Homo sapiens: one gene and its partners. The protein of the gene in region 4 purifies or fractionates together with the protein of the main gene of each other region. This does not show direct contact. Each region holds a gene or a part of one and is shown on either strand. Other genes may lie near its edges.

Region 1 (3,500 bases), on a different chromosome or scaffold from region 4:
AATCATGGGGACAGGTCTTCCCCATGCTGTTCTCGTGATGGTGAATAAGTCTCACAAGATCTGATGGTTTTAAAAACGGGAGTTTCCCTGCACAAACTCTCTCTTTGCCTGCGCCTTCCACATAAGATGTGACTTGTTCCTCCTTACCTTCCAGCATGACTGTGAGGCCTCCCTAGCCATGTGGAACTGTAAGTCCATTAGACCTCTTTTTCTTCCCCAGACTTGGGTATGCCTTTATCAGCAGTGTGGAAACAGACTAATACAGTGATTATTCTTTAAAAAAAAGAATAATTTTTTTTTTAAAGAGGCAGAGTCTCGCTCTGTAGCCCAGGCTAGGGTGCAGTGGCTCAATCATGTATAGCTATAATCTTGAAGCCCTAGGCTCAAGTGATCCTCCCACCTCAGCCTCCTATGTAGCTGGGACTACAGGTGTGTACCACCATGCCTGGCTAAGTTTTGTATTTTTTGTAGAGAGAGTCTTGCTCTGTTGCCTAGGCTGGTCTGGAACTCCTGGCCTCAAGCAATCCTTCCCTCAGCCAGCCATTATTCTTAACAGTTTACAACCTCATCCCCCCAGGCCATATCTGACCACCGCAGACAAACTTATGGCTAGAACCTTCCTGGGGGGCCGTTCCTACAAATCACCTGGTGGGCGCTAGAGCAGCACACCTTTCTGGTCAGGCTCATCACCCACCCTCTGAAGGCTCAATCTCTCAAATGTTTGTTTCTTCCCTGCTGATAGGAGGTGGCTTACAGGTATCCCAGAACCCCTCAGAACATACAACCCTCCCCTTTACCAAGATAAAGGCAAGTGGCTCAGGCCTGGGCTCCTGGTGCCTAGTCAGACAGGGGCCTGGGGGTGGGTCTTTCTGAGACTTCTGGGGTCTGGGCACAGGGCTGGGGGCAAAACAGGAAGTCCTCAGCCTAAGCACTCTGGCTGAAGAGCACATGATTGAGAGCACGCACTCTGTGCAAACCTGGCCCTGCCAGTCACTGCTGAGGGACCCAGGGCAGGTCCCTTAACTCCTGAGTGTTTCCTCATTTGTAAAGGGGGCCGGTCATGGCACCAGCCATAGCGGATGTTTAAAGAGCAAAAGAGGCCACGCATATGTATTACTCTGCCCTAGCCAGGAAAGAGGAAGAGTCTGGGGGCGATGGTGAAGGGTGGGTCACCCAAGGACCACTCCCCAAAACTACCCAGGTTGGGGGTGGGGAGTAGGTGTGTTACCTGGCCTTGTCGAAGTATTTGCCGGTGTAGGCCATCCCACAAGCGGCCCCGAGGCCCTGGCCCAGGGAGCCAGTGGCCACGTCGGTGAAAGCTTGTTTCTGTCATAACAGAAGGCCACCGTTAATCTGAGAGGAGAAGGGATCCTGGTCTCACCCGCCTAGGGAGCCACACTCCCACCCAGCCCAGCAAGCCCTTCCTCTGCAGAAGGTCAGGCCCCAGGATGGCCTCTACCTAGCATGTGACTTCTTCTCCTAATGAACTAATTATAATTATAGGTTCAAATCCCAGCCCTGCCCACTAGCCAGCTATGTGGCCTCAGGCCTCAGGCAAGGGACTGAACCTCTGTGAGCCTCAGTTCCCACATCACCCACTTCACAAAGTGCTGGGAGAGAGAATCATGAAAAAATTGACAGAACATTTGCCCCTCGTGGGGACCCAGACCATGTGACAGTTTTTGTGGTAATCCATGAAGTCTTAACGTTTGCAGGGATGCCAGATGGCACCCCAAGGAACAAACTGGGTCCCTTCCCCAGGGTTTCGCCAGCATCCTGCAGCCACTCCCTTATCGAGTCCCCTCTCTTCCCAAGCTGTAGCTACCTAGCCAAGGAGGCCCAGTGCAGAAGGGTAGCTTGGGGAGAGGCCCTCCCTGAAGTCATCCCAGAGCACCCTGGCTGAGGCCTCAGAAGGCCTTCCCCTTTGGCACCAGCTTGGGTTGAATACGTGTCCCCAAAACACCTGCTTCTTTCCTTCCTCAACTCAATGCCCTCCTCCGCCTTTCAACACCTTTGGCTTCTCAGTGGGCACCCCCTACCCCCGTCCCACATGTCTGGGAAATAGGAAGTGGAGGCAGAGGCATGGGAGGCTCTGGCAGGAGCACTTACCGGGACCGGGTGCCCGTCCAAGTCGGAGCTGATCTTCCTCAGGTTCAGCAGCTCCGCCTCGGCCAGGAAACCAGCTTCAGCCCAGACCGCGTAGAGGATGGGAGCTGCATGGCCCTGCCGGGAGATGGATGGTGGGGTGAGGTCAGGTGGGGAGCGGTTCTACTTCGGGCTGTGCCTACTTCACACTGACCCCTGGGGCCCGGCCGAGCCGGCCAACTGCAGCATCCATTTCAGGGGAGGAAGCAAGTGAAGGCCACTTCTCCCCTTTCAGCCCTCTTCAGCCTCTTGGTTTTCAGCCCAAAGTTCCCACTGCCAAGGCCAGGCAGGCACTAAGACAGGTGCAGGGGGCACAGCTGTGAGGCTGGACGAAGCCAAAACCCCAGCAGGCAGCCGGCTGCCCTAATCCCTGGTTTGTGGCATGGGAACAACTTGGACAGACTTCTAAGCTCTAAAGCCTGCCCGAGAGACCAAACGCCACGGAGGCAGGCCTGAGCACAGGTGGATTTCAGGGATCTGTGGCTGTGATTCCACCCAGAAGGGGGGGGTCAGGGGGTCCCCATCCAAAACCCTGCTACAGCACACCACCACCCCGAGGGGGCAAGCCGTGGCCTCGGGAGCGCTGGCACAACACAGATAGAGCAGGTAGGGAGCCACAACCCAGACCGAGATGCCAGTCCTGCCTGTCAACACCCAGACTGGGCAGAACACACAACAGATGTTTCCGTAGTCCCCTACTCCATTTCTTTGAGTTAAAGCGTTGTTTATGTACCTGGGCTCCATGGCAGAGCAACCCATCAATTCAGTCCTGTATTCCTTAGCCAGCTGGGTCAGCACAGAGCAGGACACTGAGGGAGAGGCCAGGACGAGCAGGGAGAAGGCACCTGGGAGAGGTGGGCCCAGCCAGGTCTCCTCAAAGACCACTCACCATTCCAGGGCCCGTGTGACCCTAGTCCCAGGCAAGGTGTGGCTGGCAGTGGGCAGCTGGGCTCTTACCTTGGAGAGCACAAAGCGGTCATTGTGCGGATTCCGGGGGTCCTGGGACTTGTAGCGCATGGTGTGGAAAAAGAGGACAGCCATGATCTCTGCGGCGCTGCAGCATGACGTGGGGTGGCTGTGGCCCAGGAGAGAAGACAGACACAGGCATCATGGCCCTGCACTCCTGAGCTATTGTGCTCAGCTGTACAGGGACCTGGGGGTGCATGTCCTGAGGAGTCACACAGGCCTGGCTTATCAGACAGCCACGAGCTCTTGTTCCCTGGGAGGGTGACACATGGTCTCAAGAAGGCCACTCCTGGCAGTTTGGGGCCTGGGCCAGCTAGTGGGTGCTGGGGACTGTTGTACCTTTCCAGGGGCATCAGATCCTCAGAATCACGGCAACTGAAAATATCTGG
Region 2 (3,500 bases), on a different chromosome or scaffold from region 4:
CACCACTGCACTCCAGCCTGAGTGACAGAGACCCCATCTCAAAATAAATGAATAAATAAATAAAACTCAAACCAGTGCTATTTTGATGTTTATGCTCACCTGGGCCTTCTTTCGAAGCAGCCACTTGTCTTCTCCAGAAGATAACTGGCTGAGGTTGCCCATCTTCTTTCCTGGCAGGACCCAGTCAGCTGTGTTAAAGGAACACCAGGAAGTATTCATGGGGCTTTTAAACTTCTGTTTGCCAGCTCTGTCTTCAGTACCAGGCACTTCCTTGGGACTTCCTTCTTTGTATGGGGGCCTGATAAGCCACTCCGACAAGGGGCTGTTCTTTATGACTTGGAAGGAATCAGCAATTCTAGAAGGAGTCATTGCCTTTGGTGCTTTAGTTTGTTCTATTACTTCTTTTCTAGGACAGAGCCACATATTCAGGGAATCTTTATGCTTCTCAGGCTCAGGTTTGGGTTCCACAGGCATCCCATTTTTATCCTTTCCTTCTTTCTTCAGAAGCCACTTATACAGAGCCTCCTTCTCACAATTCTCATCACACACACACTCTGCAAAGCTTGTGCAGGGCTCATTGGCTCTGCACACCTCCTCTACCTTACATGGGTCCTGATGGTTCTGGACAAGCCAATCCTCTGTAACCATGCTGGGGGTGGACAATGGTTTCTTGGCCTCCAAGTGGTCATTCAGGCACTTCAGATTGCCCAGGTTTTCAATCTCCACACCTTTGGGCTGGTTTCCCTGACAGTTGGTACAGGAGTCAGTCTTGACAAGCCAATCATTCACATTATAGGACTGGAATAAGAGCTTAAACTTCTCACTGGTTTCACGACTGCCATTCTCAGGCTTCCGCAGCTTATGGGATTCCTGGGGAGTCACTAGCCAATCTGATAGGTCCATCTCATCTTGATCAGGAAGCTCTTGATCTCCAACCTTTTCCATTTCAATGGAGAAAGAACTAGTAGTGGAATGGCTGTTACACTTTTGATAACTTGATTTTTCACTCTTGAGGAGCCAGTTTTCTAAGCCCTTTAGGTTTCCCCCGACATTATTGAAGAAATTGCAGGCTCTGGAAGAAGTCTACACAAAAAGTACACAGTATTAGTTTGCCAGAACAATTATGACTGCTTTGGAGATTCTGTCTGCACTTTTTCTTTTTTTGAGACAGTCTCACTCTGTCGCCCAGGCTGGAGTGCGGTGGCACAATCTCAGCTCACTGCAAGCTCTGCCTCCCAGCTTCACGCCATTCTCCTGCCTCAGCCTTCCGAGTAGCTGGGACTATAGGCGCCCACCACCACGCCCAGCTAATTTTTTTTTTTTTTGTATTTTTAGTAGAGACGGGGTTTCACCGTGTTAGCCAGGATGGTCTCGATCTCCTGACCTCGTGATCCGCCCACCTCAGCCTCCCAAAGTACTGGGATTACAGGCGTGAGCCACCACGCCCGGCCCTGTCTGCATATTTACTGTCTTGCCCAGTGTTTTGAAATTTAAGTACACAAAGCCAAAAGGCAAGGGATTTCTCTATTTAGATACTCTTATCTGATAGAAAAGGGTGTAATATGCCTTTACAAATAAAGCACAAAAAATAAGCAAAGGATATGATCAGGCAAGTCATCAAAGAAGCCTAATAAACATGAAAATACTTGGCCGGGTACGGTGGTTCACGCCTGTAATCCCAGCACTTTGGGAGGCCGAGGCAGGCAGATCACAAGGTCAGATAGAGACCATCCTGGCTAACACGGGTGAAACCCCGTATCTACTAAAAAATAAAAAATATGCAAAAAATTAGCAGGGTGTGGTGGCAAGCGCCTGTAATCCCAGCTACTCAGGAGGCTGAGGCAGGAGAATGGCATGAACCCGCAGGACGGAGCTTGCAGTGAGCCGAGATCCCACTACTACACTCCAGCCTGGGAGACAGAGCAAGACTCGGTCTCAAAAAGAAAGAAAAAAAAAAAAAAAAAAAAAAAAAAAAAAAAACGAAAAAAGAAAATACTCAACCTCCTTACTAATGGAAGAAAAAACAAAAGCAAAATTGCTATTTTGTGTCAAATTCAGAGCAAAAAACCTAAATGACTATTACTCTTAGGTTTCAGGGAAGCAGGTACCCTGAATATTCTGCTGGTGAGACTATAAACTGTTGGCAACTTCCTGGGAAGCCAAATTGGCAATATGTATCCAAAGTCTTAAAGCGTAAGCAGAATTATAATCTAGGAATGCAATTTCTATAAATGTACTCCTAAGGAACTAATCAAGAATGCACACAAATAATTGGCTCCTGGATGTTTAGGGAATCCTTTTTTATATCCAGAAAAACTTGAATTTAAATTACAGCCAATCAATTATATACTACTAAATACTTTACAGAAGAAATTAAATGACAGAGAAATATGTTAATGTTATCCTGGTGAAAAAAAAAATCTACCTACCGAAACAGGACTTACAGAATGGTTCTTTTAAAATATGTATGTATAGAAAACTGAAGTATATAAATACTTCACTTTTATTGTTACAGTGTTTTTCTCTTTGTGTTGAGATTATGGGTTTGTGGGCTTTTTTAATATAAAATTCTTTATTTTTAAAATTTTCTATGATAAAGAGTTCCTTATTTTCTAAACTTTCTATGATGAAGAGACTATTAATAAATATGTTTCCAGACTGCAACCAAAAAGTTAACAATGACACATAGTACTACTGATTAGTAACTAACTCCACCTACTGCTGTGTCTACTGTAGAAACAATAAAAGCAGCAACAGACCTGACTGTTCTCCAAGGTCTGCTTTTGGGTAAGCCAGTCCTGGGGGTCGGTGCTGGGTATGTAAGGAGCTTGATAACCACTGGCAGGTTTGCTTCCAAGGAGCCATTCGCTGAAAGGGACAGCTACAATACCGGATGCTGACTTCTGTTAATCACAAAACAAGGAATGTCAAATGCAGTAGAAAGTTCACCAGAAAAAGAGAAGAGCCACTCTCTAATCTTGGCTTGCCACTGACCCTGGGCAAATCATGTGCCTTCCAAGAGCCTCAATTTTCACAATTATAAAACAAGAGACACACAGCTGATCTCTAGGGCTCTTCTCAACTAAAACATATAGAAACCTTTATTCACATTGCCATTCCTTTAGAAATAAATCATCTCTACAAATTATAAAGAGGATCGCTCACAGAGAACCAGTATCAGTAAGACAGCTAATGATAATTTCCTGTGAACTGATTGATAATTACTTTTTCTGTTAATCAGCCCCGACAAGACATCTAAATTTCTATTTGGCATTAGGTCTCAAGGGAAGCATTCAATTTCATAAACTAACTCATTGCCACTGGTGCCTTTTTACAAATAGTAGCATTTTTTTAATGCTATATAAAACCCAAAGGAAGTATAAGCCAAGTAATGACTCAATTACCAAAAACAAAATGATATTTTACCTGCTCTGGCATGGAGATACAGCCTCTCTTCTCCAGGAAGGGCCCAATATTTGCTGAACTAGCATGAGCCATCA
Region 3 (4,099 bases), on a different chromosome or scaffold from region 4:
AGAGGATCTTTTTCAGCACAAGCTTAGAAAAGGTTCTCTGCCTCTTCCAAAAGGCTAGGCTGAAAAGATATGATGTCACTTTCAAGTCAACTTAAGACTAACAAGGGCTGGAAATTTTCACAAAGTGACAATTACAAGTTGGAAGTTTCTTTCTAGTATCTTTGGCTAGAAAGTTATTTCCCAATTCTCACAAAGAATTCCATGACAATTGTATTTCCCTGGGCAATTAACAGGTACACAGAAGCTCAAGCGCATTCCTGCTGAAGGCTGACACTCATCCGTGTTCTGGGCATTCGTACAGAGCATTACTGGCATTCACGGTCCCAGCGAAACCTGAACACAGCTCTAGAGTCTAGACCAAATCACCGGCCCCTTGTTTAAACTGTTTGAACCCGAGTGTATCTGTACACCACCAGTCCCCTGGCGCTCTGGGGTGAGTCTGGCCCGGTCTCCGGTGGGCCCTGGAGCTTGGCACTCTGAGATACCCCTGGCTGTCTGGCCCTGCCCACTGCAACCAAGGCCTGCCTGCCGGAATGCAAGCCAGGTCCATTTTTAAATTCCTTTATAAGTTTCACAACCGCAGGTTTGGGTGAGGAGACAAACACCGCTGTAGTTTGCTGACATTAAACTAAAAATACCCAGCTGCAAACAAAAGCCATCTTTAACAGGGCTGGCTCGGACGTCCTGAGGTTACATGTGGTAGAGTCGGACCATATCCTTGGCAGTGTGGCTGCCTTAACAACTGCTCCAGACCGAGTGGGGCAAAGGGGCCGTCTGTCCCTGCGCTGTCAAGGAATCTGCAGCCTGCAGCCCTGCCTGTTTGATGGAAAGAACAGCTTTATTCCTCTGCCATCGACCCAAACGCAGGCTTGATGAATTCGGGACTGCGTCTGTTTAAAGTGTTAGATACACAGTGAAAGGAGAAGGCGGGAGGCAAAAATGAAAAACACCAACCCCACTTCCCTGGAAGGAAATGCGTTTCCACCTCCCTCCTCCTTGCAATTAGAAAAGCAAATTATTGCTGTGACTACGCTGAGAAAGGCAACTCGGAGGCGTAGAAAATGGATTTCTGAGCCAACGTGGCCCGGCAGGGGGCTGCTAAGGGAGGGTAAAAGGGAGCAGGGGAGCCACGGCTTGGCGGGGAGACCCGCGTTACCCGGAAGGCTTCTCGGAACGTTCTACCTGTTGGGCTTCGCAGCCGAGCTGCTCACCCCCGGCCGCCGCGCTCGAGGGCGCCCCTCCCTCTCCAGAACCCAAACTTTCCCTCGCACCCCTAGGAAGCGACGAGCCTCGTCCCTCCCCCAGTCCAGATTTCGGACGTGGAACTTTGCCTGAGCCACAAGGGACCGGAGGAATGGGGTTCATTCCCACGCCGCCCGGGGGATTCCCGTTGCTCGGATCCCAGAAGTGGGGGATGCAAACGGACGGTCAGCCCAGGACCTGGCCAAAGTTTCCTCCAAAACTGCAGTGGTCAAGGCGTGACCCAGGAGCTCGGAGTTTCCAGCTCAGGGCTGGGGGCTGGAGCAGGCCCCGGGGCACCAGCCGCAAGGTCACTGCGGAGCCGGACCCCGGGGGCAAACGGCCGGCGCGTGGTGGAGGGGCAACGCTGGGCACCCGACCACTCTCCACACCTGCTCAGCTCTGCGCGGAGCCCGGGACACGTGGGAGCCCAGTCCCGGGCTCCCAGCCTGCTGCAGGGACTCGCAACCTCGCCGGGGCGTACACCCTTCGCCCCCGGCCCGGCAACCAGGAAGAGGCGGCTCGCCCGGGCGCAGAGCAGCCGGCTCCGGGTAACTCTTTCATCCTCCGACCTCGGCAGCAGCAGGGAGGGAGTTTCGTTCTCCTCAAACCAGCCCCTCACCCCCGGTTGCTTCCCACACCTCTCCGTTTCCCTGCTACCTCGCAGACAGACAGACAAGGGACACAAAGAAAAAAAGAAGAAGAAAAAAAAAAAAAAAAAAACTACCGCCCCTCCTGGTCCCATCCTCCAGCCCGGAGCCGGTAGGAAGAAGAGGGCGAAGCACACCTTCCCTTCTCCTCCCCATCCCGACGCGGTGACCCGGGTAGATCTGGGCAGCCAGGAGCTCTGGGCAGCCAGGAGCCCCGAAGAGGCCGAAGGCGGAGAGGTAGGGTTGGAAGAGGCAGAAATCAGGCGGAGCGAGCTAGAGCGCGAGAGAGAAGAAAATATCCAACAAAACCACGCTAACGCGCCCCCTACCTGGGTGCAACATACTTTGGAAATAGAAGATGACCAGGATAAAGGATCCCAAGCAAGTGGCCAGCACCATCCGGCAGATTCTGTTCATCCTCATCACTTCCAGCAGCGCTGGCTTCATGGCTTTGTCCTGGCTGCGGGGACCGGGGTGTCCGGGAAGCGCGCCCGGGGCGCAGGAGCAGGGACCCCGCCGCGCGGACCGGAGCCCGGGAGGCGCGGGGCAGAGCTGAGCAAGGCTCAGAGGGAGGATCGGAGTCGCTTCGCGGCCGCTCTCGGAGCCCCCAGCCCGGGCAGGGGTGTGGAAGGTGCCGGAGTTGGTCTGGAAGTGCTGAGATGCGTGGACCCGCTGGCTGCGCGCTCCTGCTCCTCCTCCTCGCCGCTCCGCCGCCTCCTCCGATCCCGCCGGCGGCCGCCGCTGCCTGGTCGCGGGCCGGGCGGCTGGGGTGCGAGCGGTGATGGTGGTGCCGCCGCCGCTGCCGCTGCGCTGGCCGCTGTGGCTGTCCGACGGGCCCTCTCCCTTCTCTCCAAAGGCTACTTCATTGCGCTCCAACGATCTATATATTCCGGGGCTGGGTTTTACCAAATGCAACTCGCGGCCCCCGGCGAGGGGAGGGCGCCTGCGGAGAGCCGGGAGGAGGGAGGGACCCTAGCGCCGGGGCGGAGCGTCGCGCTCCCCCCGCCCCTACCCGGGATATGGTCGCGTCCAGCTGTTGCCCGGGGAGTGCGGTGTGCGCGCCGCGCTCCCGCAGGGTCCCAAAAGCCCTCAGTCCCCGGCCGGGCTCGGCCGCCGTCTGGAGGTTGTGTCAGCGTTTCCATGACAAAACCCGGAGGAAAAAAAGACGAAGAAAATCGCCTCGGTGCTGCCACCCACCCCCGCCAGCGTTTGGAGAGGGAAGTGGCAAGCAGCGGGCTGGGTCTCGGAGGGAAGAATTAAGGGTTAGGGGGTTTCTGGTGGCTGGCAATTATTTAAAATCCCTGGGCGACGTAGCGGGGAAGTTGCCCCAAACCCCCAGGGAGCGAGTGCCCATTTTCCGACGCTCAGAACTGGGCGGTTTCGTTTTTCTTTCAAAGGACAGCCCAGCTTGGGAGTCGGGGTTAAAGAGGGCTGACTTAAAGTCAGGGTTAAGGAAACTGCACGACCCTCGGGTCAGGCGACAGCTGAGCTTTCCCGGGGACTTATACAGACAGAATCTCTGACACCCACCATCACCACCATTCCTCAAGGCAAAAGGGATCTGTGGGTTGCAAAACTCTGCTACCCCAAAGGGTAGAGCATCCTCCAAATTATTCAAAATTAACAGCAGTCTTAGCTGGGAGGGGGTGAGAAAATGCCCCTAGGAAGCCACCTCAACCAAGTCCAGAAAACTGCTGGAAAAGCCAAGCCAGCCATAGCACTGGCAGGTACATGGAAAGATGGTGCTGCTTTCTTGTATTGTGTAGAATGACTTCCAGTTTCCAATTCCATGCATTTAGGCTGTTTCACAATCAATAAAGTGGACACAGCCAATAGTGTAGGGATCACTCGTATGTCAGGGAAAAAAAAAATGTTAGTTAGACTAACCTTTGTGCCTTATCAAGTCATTACTAATTCAATTAAAAATGAAATAAGATACTGTGTCTTTCAATGCCTCTCACAAAATAGGCATTTGATAAATTCTTATTGAATCTGAATGTAATGGGCCTTATCCTCCCCTCGATAGACAGAGACACAACTTGCAGTTAGACACATGCAACAAAAACCACCTGGGCAACCTCAGTTCCCTTCCCCCAGAGTTCTCCTCCAGCAGTTGCATGGTGGGGAAAGTAACAAACTCAGCAGCCTTGCCTTTGATTACAGAAGACAATCAAAGCACAATATTTATGTAGCCGGTGTGCGCTGTATTA
Region 4 (3,500 bases):
GCCCTGCACACCACGCCAACCCGAGCCCCAACCACCCACTGGCCAGAGCACTGCAGCCCTGCACACCATGCCAACCCGAGCCCCAACCACCCACTGGCCAGAGCACTGCAGCCCTGCACACCACGCCAACCCGAGCCCCAACCACCCACTGGCCAGAGCACTGCAGCCCTGCACACCATGCCAACCCGAGCCCCAGCTGCCCGTCTTCATGGAGGACCCAGTGCAGGAAGCGACTCCTTAGAGTAAAGTGCTGTGGGGAAAGCATGTTCGCACAAATCACGCGCACGTGCTGCTCACTGAAGTGAATTGCTGGTTCCTAAAGAACTACTGGGTCTTCAGTGCAGTCACTGCCCAGCAGCTTGGGAAGGGGGTGAAGTGTGAGGAAGAGACTGAGAGAGGCGGACAGAGCTCCCTCTTCACATGTGCGGGCCTCGGCCGTGCGGGCAGCACGGCGCTCTGGTGGATGGAGCAGTCGGCCCTCACCTGTGGTTGAAGGTCTGGAGGCCGATGGAGGCTGATGCAAAGACCACAGACTCACAGAAGCTGGAGGTGTGGCCCAGGCACAGAGCAAAGACGCTGGAGAGGCCAAGGCCCATGCCCTGCAGGAAAGCGCCACCGTGACGGAGAGGCACCCAGCCCGCCTGCAGCAGGGCCCTCTCCTGACTCAGCTGCCCGAAAGCCCCCCTGGGCGCACCGCACAACGGTCAGGTTGGCTGCGACCACAAACTTCTCTCAGACCAGGCCCCCTAGAGGAGGTCTGGGAGGAGTCTCCGCAAGAATCAGCCCCGCTCCAAGGGAGAGGCCCTATTCGACGTGGGCAAGCTCAGGCCTGGGCCCAGAGGGGCACAGGATGCTGACCCCAGCCTTCCCCCCAACAGCTGTCTAAACAGCCCCTTCTGGGCCCCAGTGCTGGACACATGGAGAGGCCTGGCATTTGCCTGGTCCCAGATATCAGGTGACTTGGGGACACAACCCTGAGTTCCTGGGAGACCCTGAACAAAGCAGGGATATCCAGAGAGAACGACCGGAATGATTCTCCTACCTGCATGAGCTTCCGCACCGTGATGGCTCTGTAACCTACAGGGGGAGGCCAAGGAAGGGGCTCCCGTTAGCCCTTTCGTGCTGACACCCCAGAGGGGGTCCCATCCCGAATGGCTGCAGAGGGGCAGCAGGGGAGGAAGAGGCTTGGGGCTCAAGACAGCTATCCCGTGCTGCAGGCAAAAACGTGTGCACACACGCATGTGGGGTGCAGCCGCGAGGCCGCATGTGCGCCTTTGGAAGGTTCCCAAGGCGTGGGTTTGGGCAGAAACACAGAACAGCCACACAGCAGTTACAGAGGCGGAAACAGGCGAGCGGCCCCACTTCCTCTGCTGCTCCAGATTTTCTAGCTTTTCCACAACGAGTGTGTATTCCTTTTGCAATTAGGAAAAACACGAACATTCTAAGAATAGGCACACGTGTGGAGAGAGCATGTGGGCACGCGTGTGCATCCGCCTGTACGTGTCTGTGCAGCGGACACTGCACTAGGGGAAGAAACACGCAGCCCGCTCGGGGCTCATCCCAGCGTGGGTCTGGAGCACATGGAACAAAGACAGAAGCTCTTCCAAAGGTTCAAGGATGCTTGTAACCTCTGACCCCTCCAGGTGCCTTCCTGGAGGGTCAGGGGCTGCATCCAGCCCCCAGGGGTGAGCTCCACAGTCACCGTGAGACCAGACCCTCCACCACAGTCTAACCCCACCCTTTAAGGAGGAGGCCGAGCCTGGAAAGAAGTGCCCCTCTGTCCCAGCTCTCCGTGTGCTGAAGCTGCAGCCCCAGGATGGGAGCATCCTGCCCCTCGAAAGCGAGGTGAACCAGGGTGTGGCTTCCAGCCCCGGTCCCCTCCCTGGGGCTCACCCTGATTGATGAGATGATCAGAGAGAAACCCGCTGAATAGACTGGCCGGAATCGCCACCAACCAAGGAACCACGTTGAAGATCCAGCCCTGCAGGGGGGAGTTTGGCCTTAGAGGGGGCCAGGGCCGGCATCTGGCCATCTGGAAGAGGATACTCAGGCTGGACAGCGCCCCCGTGCCCACCACTGCCCAGGAAAGCTCTCCGGCAGGGCCAGCCCTGCTCCTGGGAATGTGCAGCTCTTGACCACCACCCGGCAGGGCAGCAAGACAGCCTCAGAGAAGGAACCGTGCTGACCGCAGGTGACCCCTCTGTCCACATCCCGGCTTCTGCACCGGCCTCCTCAGGCTCTGAAGTCGGGTTCTGTGGGCCAGCAGGTCACGATGAGGGCTGGGAGGGCTGCAGCCGCAGCAGGAAGGCACCGAGCGCCCGCATCATTTCCAGCCTCAAACACAGAAACCTGCCCCGAGCATGGACGGGGTCCTCTCCAGAGGAAGAGCCTGGCAGTGCCAGGACCCTCAGAGTCCAGGAGGAGCCGAGGGTTCCACCATCTGCAGGCCAAGGACCCACAGTGCCTGGTGCAGCTCAAGCCTCGTGCCTTCTGGGCGCTCCTTCACCCTGCGGGAGCCCCCGACTCACCTTGGCGTCGGGGAAGGTCTCCTCGAAGAAGGTGGGCAGCCAGGAGAGGAGGATGAAGAAGGAGCAGGCTGCAGAGAGCTGGGAGACGACGGCTGCCCTGCGGGGCCCAATGGTGGACCGTGACTCTGGTGCCGCACGAGCTGGCCGGGCCTGTGGGACCCACCCCGAGAGGCGTCCCCTGGGGGCCAGAGTCCCACTTCTCTGAGCCCTAGGCCCTGCTGGCTCAAGGGCTGTCAGGTCCGGCCAGGTTCACACCCCCATGGTCACCGGCCCTGCCGCTGCTCCAAGGGGTGGCACAGGTCCCAGCTCACCAGACAGCAGGCTTCCGGAAGAGCCGTCTCCAGGGGACTCTGTTGTGCCTGGACACCGGCCGGCTTTGGGCCAGGACACCCAAGGCCAGGATGAGATCTGAGGGAGCAACGGTTTCAAACTGATGGCTATCAGGGCGGGAGGCGCCACCCGTTGCCAAAGGATTGGGGATTTGGGGGTGGTTCCAGAGGGGTCAGCAGGCCTCGTCCATGCCTCAGGTTGCACATGGGCGCCAGCCTCCCTTGGCCTCCCCTACCAGACACCTAACAGGCAGCATCACCTTTGAGAACCGCGTTCTGAACGACCCTCCACACGGCCTCCTCCAGAGCCCCCTGGCCACCCAAAGACTCGGCTGCTCCTGCACCCTGCCTTGACCTGTGCCCAGCAGGTCTTCCTGGGTGTCTGCCTTAGCCCTAGATGGAACCTTCCAGATCGAATTGGGTGGCGGAGCCGCTGACAGCTCAGCACCCGAGCGCTTTTCCTCACTGGCGGATTCTTTGGGAGGTCAAAGCCATCGTCTCCGGGCTCCTGCTCCAGGCTGCTCAGCGGCTGCCACCAGGGGAGGAGGCACTGGGCAGCTGTGGGCGCCCGGGACTAGCCCGCCCGGCCTGCGTTACCTTTTTCACTCAGCAGGTACCTGTACACGTACCACACCCAAAGCAA

The links. Proteins that work in one complex are often made in the same cells at the same time.
Region 1: the proteins of SLC17A9 (region 4) and TKT purify together in Homo sapiens (affinity purification with mass spectrometry; one large-scale study listed by BioGRID and IntAct). This does not show direct contact.
Region 2: the proteins of SLC17A9 (region 4) and NCOA4 purify together in Homo sapiens (affinity purification with mass spectrometry; one large-scale study listed by BioGRID and IntAct). This does not show direct contact.
Region 3: the proteins of SLC17A9 (region 4) and CHST11 purify together in Homo sapiens (affinity purification with mass spectrometry; one large-scale study listed by BioGRID and IntAct). This does not show direct contact.

Annotation. Positions count from the first base shown.
Region 1 is NC_000003.12:53,239,023-53,242,522, forward strand, and holds part of TKT (transketolase), read right to left. Parts: intron 3,221-3,500; coding exon 3,103-3,220; intron 2,224-3,102; coding exon 2,110-2,223; intron 1,327-2,109; coding exon 1,229-1,326; intron 1-1,228. UniProt on the Homo sapiens protein: Catalyzes the transfer of a two-carbon ketol group from a ketose donor to an aldose acceptor, via a covalent intermediate with the cofactor thiamine pyrophosphate.
Region 2 is NC_000010.11:46,010,124-46,013,623, forward strand, and holds part of NCOA4 (nuclear receptor coactivator 4), read right to left. Parts: coding exon 3,427-3,500; intron 2,904-3,426; coding exon 2,760-2,903; intron 1,084-2,759; coding exon 100-1,083; intron 1-99. UniProt on the Homo sapiens protein: Cargo receptor for the autophagic turnover of the iron-binding ferritin complex, playing a central role in iron homeostasis. Acts as an adapter for delivery of ferritin to lysosomes and autophagic degradation of ferritin, a process named ferritinophagy.
Region 3 is NC_000012.12:104,455,649-104,459,747, reverse strand, and holds the start of CHST11 (carbohydrate sulfotransferase 11), read right to left. Parts: upstream 2,801-4,099; 5' UTR 2,337-2,800; coding exon 2,219-2,336; intron 1-2,218.
Region 4 is NC_000020.11:62,962,709-62,966,208, reverse strand, and holds part of SLC17A9 (voltage-gated purine nucleotide uniporter SLC17A9), read right to left. Parts: coding exon 3,455-3,500; intron 2,937-3,454; coding exon 2,840-2,936; intron 2,626-2,839; coding exon 2,529-2,625; intron 1,982-2,528; coding exon 1,894-1,981; intron 1,078-1,893; coding exon 1,043-1,077; intron 600-1,042; coding exon 484-599; intron 1-483. UniProt on the Homo sapiens protein: Voltage-gated ATP nucleotide uniporter that can also transport the purine nucleotides ADP and GTP. Uses the membrane potential as the driving force to control ATP accumulation in lysosomes and secretory vesicles.